2 linked regions of the Homo sapiens genome follow. The protein of the gene in region 2 purifies or fractionates together with the protein of the main gene of each other region. This does not show direct contact. Each region holds a gene or a part of one and is shown on either strand. Other genes may lie near its edges.

Region 1 (3,517 bases), on a different chromosome or scaffold from region 2:
AAGAGAGTTCTGATTTTAAGGAGTTTCACATCCTTGAAAACACATATATTATCTTTTTTTTTTTTTTTTTTTTTGAGACGGAGTCTCGCTCTGTCCCCCAGGCTGGAGTGCAGTGGCGCGATCTCGGCTCACTGCAAGCTCTGCCTCCTGGGTTCACACCATTCTCCTGCCTCAGCCTCCCAAGTAGCTGGGACTACAGGCACCCACCACCACGCCCAGCTAATTTTGTGTATTTTTAGTAGAGACGGGGTTTCACCTAGCCAGGATGGTCTCGATCTCCTGACCTTGTGATCCACCCACCTTGGCCTCCCAAAGTGCTAGGATTACAGGCGTGAGCCACTGCACCTGGTGTATATCATCTTTTTAATTTTAGCCTTTCTGGTGGTTGTGTAATGGCATCTTGTTATTGCCATAATTTGAATTTCCCTAATGACAAAAGAAATTGAGCATCTTTTCATGTGATTATTGACCATTTGAATATCCAAAGTTGCCCTTTTCTTTAAATTTGTAAAGTTGTTGTTTCTGTTTAGATTTCGTTGTTTGAGATGAGGTCTCTGTCACCTAGGCTGGAGTGCAGTGGCACCATCACAGCTCATTGCAGCCCTGACCTCCTGGGCTCAAGTGATCCTCCAACCTCAGTCACCCAAGTACAGGCATGTGCCACCACCACGCCCAGTAAATTAAAAAAAATATTTTGTAGAAAAGAGTTCTTACTATGATGTCCAGACTGGTCTTGAGCTTCTGGGCTGAAGCAATCCTCCCGCCTCATCCTCCCAAAGTGCTGTGCTTACAGGCATGAGCCACTGTGCCAGACCAAACTTTTTAAAATATATTTTGAATTTGAGTCTTTTATTAGATATGTGTATTACAAATATCTCCTACTATATAACTTTTAAGACTTTTTTAACATTTTAAGATTAAACATTAAAGTCAGTTTGTATGTCTTATTTTTACAAAGGGAATGAGTAAAATGTAAGTGAAATTATTTTCTGGACTTAAGTGAAATATATGTTACCTTTAATTTTTTTTATGGTGAAATTTTCTTTGGCTCTATTCCAAGAAGTTACCGTGTATACTATTTATAATTTTTCTTTCTTTCTTTTTTTCTTTCTTTCCTTTTTTTTTTTTTTTTTTTTTTTTTTTTTTTTTGACAGAGTCTCACTCTGTCACCAGGCTGGAGTGCAGTGGCGCGATCTTGGCTCACTGCAACTTCCACCTCCCAGGTTCAAGCGATTCTGCTGCCTCAGCCTCCTGAGTAGCTGGGACTACAGGCGTATACCACCACACCTGGCTAGTTTTTGTATTTTTAGTGGAGATGGGGTTTCACCATGTTGGCCAGGATGGTCTCAAATCTCCTGACCTCGTGATCCACCCACCTTGGCCTCCCAAAGTGCTGGAATTACAGGCATGAGCCACCGCGTCTGGCCTTATAATTTCTTTAAAAAAAAAAAAATTGTGTGATATTGAAGTGGCCTTGTGGTCTAGGGTAGTACCTGAGGTTTGCTGTCTCACAGCCACAGAGATCAAGGACGTGGACACACAAAGAGTGAGGTTAACAGCAGAAGTTTAGTAGGTGAGAGAGAGAATAGCTCTGTGCTACAGAGAGGTGTCCTGGAAAAATGTGTTGCCAGATCTGTGGTGAAATGCAAGGGGTTTTTTAGATGAGCTAGTGGGGAGGCAGTGTCTGTTTTAAATAGGGCATGAAAAACCGGTAAGGTCCAGGTGCACCATTTATATAGGGCATGAATTTCTGGCAGCCCCCACCCTAATTTTTTATCATGCAGGCAGGTTCTCTGCCTGAGCTGCACCATGTTGCCCATTTTTTTACTGTACACATGCTAACAAAAAAGAGAAGGTGGAGCTTTCATGGTGGACATGCCTGGCTCCCAGGTAGCCCTTTTCTGTTGGTTCAGCTGCTGGCATTCCCCCGTGCAAGCTTCCAGCTTGCTTATCTATGTTTGCAACTCAAGTTTTTCAGGCTGCTCTTCGTTAGAAAAGAAATGATTTTGGGGGCCGCTTTTTGTTAGAAGGGAAGCTCTGCCGAGGTCTCTTTTGCCCTCACTATCTGCCTAAATAATTTCTTTCTGCCTACTGTATCGATATAACTTCACACTTCTTGAAAATGTATTAGTAGAACTCCTTTATATCCTTTATCCAGATTATCTAATTATTAACGTTTAGCTACACTTTCCTTATTCTGTAGATGTTCTCTTTCTATGTATATCCATTACATATGTCTTCTGAAATACTTTAGAGTAATTTGTACACATTATGCACTTTTATCCATAAGTACCTTAAGTATGTATTTCCTAAGAACAAGTTTTCTGCTTACAAAACCACAACTCAATATTGGGAAATTTTAAATTGATATAATATTATTGTCTAATTATAGTCCATATCCAAATTTTACACAATAACAGTCCTTATAACTTTAATTTTTTTCTTGTTGGGGATCTAATCTAGGATCACACATTGCATTCAGTTGGTATGGCCTTTCATTGTCCTTAATATCCTTGACATTTTTGAAGAATACAGGCCAATTATGCTGTAGAATGGGCTTCTAGTTACATTTCTCTCATGTTTCTTCTTGTTTGGGTTGAGGTTATTCAGGTATATAAGACAGGAAGATCAAAGAAGTAATGTTTTGATGTCTGCAGGGAATTATACTGAAAGCCATATCATGTCTCTTTATCCCTTTAACTGCTGTTTTTAACTTTAATTGCTTTGCTAATCTATTGTAAAAGTACTATTTTTTCTTTTGTAATTAAAAACTGACTCATGGGGAGATACTTTGAGGCTATCTAAATAATCTTAATTTAATTCTTACTCTTTTTTGTGCTGTTTTAAAGAATTAATCTAACTATACTTTATCCCTTTCATTTTATTCAATCTCTCAGATACGTTTTCCCAGAATTACTTTTGAAACATTAGATGAACTTAGGAAATTTTATTATGGTCAGTCAGAAATCATTAAAAATGTATATATATATTGGCAGTTATGCTTCATTTTAACCAGATTGATTTGGGTCAATTAAAGGCTTAAGTTCTTTTAAACCTAAAACTTTCAAATTGGTAAATTTGGATTTTTGACCCCGTTTACTATAACACATTGGACTTTTTGAAGTGGAAATTTAGTTGTATTTATAGCCATCTACCATCCCTACCAGTACTGAATTTTCAGTTGTTTTCACTTAATATTATTAGAAAACCATAAGGCAAAATGTACCTCGTATAACTTGACTGTTGTACCAGGTATAATAATATGATGCTCACTTGTAACTGTCATGGGTCAGTAATAAAATTGAGGTTCTTGAAGAACTTACATATGCATGGAGGAAAATATTTCATAAGTCACGAATTAAAATACTTTTTTGTTTTTATATTGCAGATTGGTTTTTCAGCAGCAGATGCTGTAACAGGACTGAAATTGGTAGAAGAGGGAGTACCCAAAGAACATTTAGCCTTATTGGCAGTTCCAATGGTTCCTTTGCAGATAATACTGCCTCTGATTATCAGC
Region 2 (3,881 bases):
CTGCTGCTCATGTGCCTGTGAAGAAGCACAAGGAGACCCCTCTTTACATCCTCTGCACAGCAGGCATGAGGCTTCTCCCTGAGAGGTGAGATGCAGGGTACAGGAAACACAGGAAAACGGTGGCACAAGAGATGAAAGGCCAGTTTCATGCACTGTCCTCTGTGGTTCCCTGGTCTATACCCCTAAACCCAATTATGACACAATCATTCATTCCCAACTTCTTGTCATTTGCTGCTTTGGGATCAGTATCTATCTGGGATGACTATAGTGATTCTTAGTTTGGATTGAGGGTTGGGAGTAGTGGTGATGGTAATAGATTTGGATCATCGGGCACATAGAGAACATAATTACAGAATAAATTAGGAAGAGGGTCACCTGATGACCTGGATACTTAGGGACTAGTCAGAGAGCTCTGGTAGGAACACTACCTTTTCTGTAACTCTGCCTAGAACCCTGGCAATAACTGGGGGAGTCCCTCTTCTTGCTGCTACTGCAAAGCTCAGTCTCCATTGCCTTAGGCCTGTTTTCTCAGCCCCAGCCAGTCACATCATTTCCACTTGACCTTTGCAATTCAGCCTGACACCTTGCCACCTGATCCCTCTTCCTGCATTAGAGGAAGAGGAAGAGAAGGCTGTATTTAGGCCAGACTCCTTGTTTGTGATTTCTCTCCTTTGGTACCACCTTGATCCGTCCATACTTACGTAGGCCGGGGGAAGAATGAGCTCCCTGACTTTTTTTTTAATGATTTTTATTTTATTGTGGTAAGCATACAACATGAGAGCTACCCTCTAACCAGATTTTTTTCTTTTTTTTTAGAGACAGGGTCTGCTCTGTTGCCCAGGCTGGAGGGCAGTGGTGTGATCACAGCTCACTTCAACCTCTGCCCCCCAGGCCCAAGTGATCCTCCCACCTCAGCCTCCTAAGTAGCTGGGACTACAGGTGGGCACCATCACACCCAGCTAATTTTTGTGGAGCCAGGTTTCACCATGTTGCCCAGGCTGGTTTAGAACTCCTGGGCTCAAGTGATCCGCTTGCCTCAGCCTCCCAGAGCGCTGGGATTTCAAGCGTCAGCTACCATGTCTGGCCCAACAAATTTTTAAGTATACAATACGTTATTGTTGACTGTGTGTACAGTGTTGTACAGTGGATCTTCAGTGCTTATTCATCTTGCTTAACTGAAATTTTGTGCCTATTTATTTCCCTTAGCATATTGTCGTTAGTGTTCATCCACCTTGTCACATATTGCAGAATGCCCTTTTTTATTTAAAAAAGTCTAAATAGTATTCCACTGTGTGTATGTACCATGTTTTCTTTACATATTCATCTGTCAGTGAACATTTAGGTTGTTTCCACATCTTGGTTATTGTAAATAATGCTTCAGTGAACATGGGAGGGCTCATATCTCTTTGAGATCCTGATTTTAAATCTTTGGAATAATTAGCCAGAAGTAGGATTGCTGGATCATATGACAGTTTGATTATTTATTTATTTATTTATTTATTTACTGAGACAGGGTCTCGCTCTGTTGCCCAAGCTGGAGTGCAATGGCATGATCTCGGCTCACTGCAACTTCCACCTCACAGGCTCAGGTGATTCTCCCACCTCAGCCTCCCAAGTATCTGGGACCACAGGCATGTGCCACCATGCCTGGCTAATTTTTTGTATTTTTTTTTGTAGAGATGGGGTCTTGCCATGTTGCTCAGGCTGTTCTTGAAGTCCTGGGCTCAAGCAGTCTGCACGTCTTGGCCTCCCAAAGTGCTGAATTACAGGCGTGAGCCACCGTACCCGGCCTATATTTTTAATTTTTTGAGGAACCTCCATACTGTTTTGCAGAGCTGCTGCACCATTTTATATTCCCACCAGCAGTATGCAGAGTTTCCAATTTCTCCACAGCCCTGCCAACACTTGTTGTCTTTTGTTTTTTGGATAACAGCCATCCTGACAAGTGTGAGGTGATATGTCATCGGGGTTTTGATTTGCATTTCCCTGATGACTAGGGATGTTGAGCAACTTTTCATATGCCTGTTGGCCATTTCTGTGAATGGAGAAATGTCTATTCAAGTCTTTAGCCCATTTTTACATTGGGTTAATAGGATTTTTGCTGTTGAGTTGTAGGAGTTTCTAAAATATTTTAAAGATAAACCCCTTACCAAGGTATAGTTCGCAAATATTTTTTCCCATTCTGTAGCTTGCCTTTTTACTCTGTTAATTTTTTCCTTTACTGTACAGAAATTTTTAGTTTGATATAGTCTTACTTGTTTATTTTTGGTTGCCTGTGCCTTTTGGTGTCATATCAATGAGACCATTGCCAACCTTAACTTTAGAATTCATCCTCCTGGAATGTTCATGGTCTCATAGGCATCAGGTATTTCCTTATTAGCTTAAATATTTTCCTTTGGTCAACAGCAGTTTTTTTTTTTTTTTACAACGTTTAAATTTTATAGTTGGCTTTCTTTCCTTAAATCAACAGCAAACAACAAAAACCTCAGCCATACATGTAGGGCTCCAAGGCTTATGTCAGACATGTAGACAACATAACATATAGCAGCAATGCTTCTTTCAGTGGACTTTTTTTCACAGTTACTGGTTTACTGACTGGTTTACTGTTGAGAAGCAGATTATTTATATAGCCATTTGTCAACATGAGAGGTTTTTTAGTTCCTTATTGCCCCATACATTTCAGTCTTTAAAAAATTTTTTGTTTTGTTTTTACTTATCTTTAAAACCAAACTTTAAATATTGTAACTGCAGCCTTAACTCCTTAAGGGAAATCTTAAAAATGAACAAAACAATACAATACAACTTACAACCCTGCTACCCTATCAAAACTGTTTCGTTTTGTTGTATTCCCTCCTTTCTGTTCACATATATGTAATTTCCACAAAGTTGCAATCATACTGTGCATGCAATTAAGAATTTTTATTTGACATAGGTGATATTCATATTGTTCAAAAATTTTAGAAACCCTGGGAAGAATATAGATGACACAAGAGCAGGTGCCACATCACAAAGTCTATAAAAGGCCAAGGAAAGGGGAGGGAGGCCAGAGAAAAAGCTGACCTGGAGGTTAAAAAGGCAGAATTGACCAGCTGAGCTGGGCAGAGGAACCCACTTGGTAGTTTGGCTACCTTTAGTGTGTTTGGAGGAAAGGAGATTGTTGCCTCACCTCCTGGCACTGTTCGGTATTACCTCTGTCAAAGAAGTTTCCATCCAAACAAAACCCACTGTGTAGCTCCACCCTTTTTGTCTAAGATGTTAGTTGTCAATGTGGAAACTCTGAATATTAATATTTATTGTATCTAAAGAATTTTTAAAGAAATTTGCCTTTTTTTTTTCTCTTTCAACTTGTTTTCTGGTCACCTCTCTAAATAATGCATACATCTGTTCTAGGCTTATAAAATCATTGCTGCCTCTAAGTCCAAGCGAGTTGTTGGCATAAATGTGACTATCAGTATAAGAACCTGTTTTGTATGATTAAAGGTTTGCTAATTTATTAGCATTTGTAAGCAGATTCAAAATAGGGTTGAACCATTTAGACTATATTTTGAATTTATTAGCATTTGGTTTTATTTCTTTGCCAAAGGCCTGGACTAACAGAATTTTTTCTACCTCCCTTTTATTTTGCAGTTAAAAAAAATCCCTTAAAAATTACACCATAATACAAGGTGGTGTTTAATAAAATAATAATTTTTATTTTAGGAAATTTCACTTGTGTATAAAAGTAAAGAGAACAGTGCAGTAAATCCCCATTTACCCACTACCCAGCTTTAACAATTATCAACATTTCGCCATTTTAAAAGCATTTTAAATAAATAAACAATATTGAATTTTAGAAGATGAAAGCTTTATCCTGTCACTATGTATACATGAAGAATGATTTG

The links. The genes of interacting proteins can lie anywhere in the genome.
Region 1: the proteins of ENTPD7 (region 2) and SLC33A1 purify together in Homo sapiens (affinity purification with mass spectrometry; one large-scale study listed by BioGRID and IntAct). This does not show direct contact.

The regions. Positions count from the first base shown.
Region 1 is NC_000003.12:155,833,913-155,837,429, reverse strand, and holds part of SLC33A1 (acetyl-coenzyme A transporter 1), read left to right. Parts: intron 1-3,388; coding exon 3,389-3,517. UniProt on the Homo sapiens protein: Acetyl-CoA transporter that mediates active acetyl-CoA import through the endoplasmic reticulum (ER) membrane into the ER lumen where specific ER-based acetyl-CoA:lysine acetyltransferases are responsible for the acetylation of ER-based protein substrates, such as BACE1.
Region 2 is NC_000010.11:99,679,791-99,683,671, forward strand, and holds part of ENTPD7 (ectonucleoside triphosphate diphosphohydrolase 7), read left to right. Parts: coding exon 1-85; intron 86-3,881. UniProt on the Homo sapiens protein: Catalyzes the hydrolysis of nucleoside triphosphates and diphosphates in a calcium- or magnesium-dependent manner. Preferentially hydrolyzes nucleoside 5'-triphosphates, with substrate preference for UTP > GTP > CTP.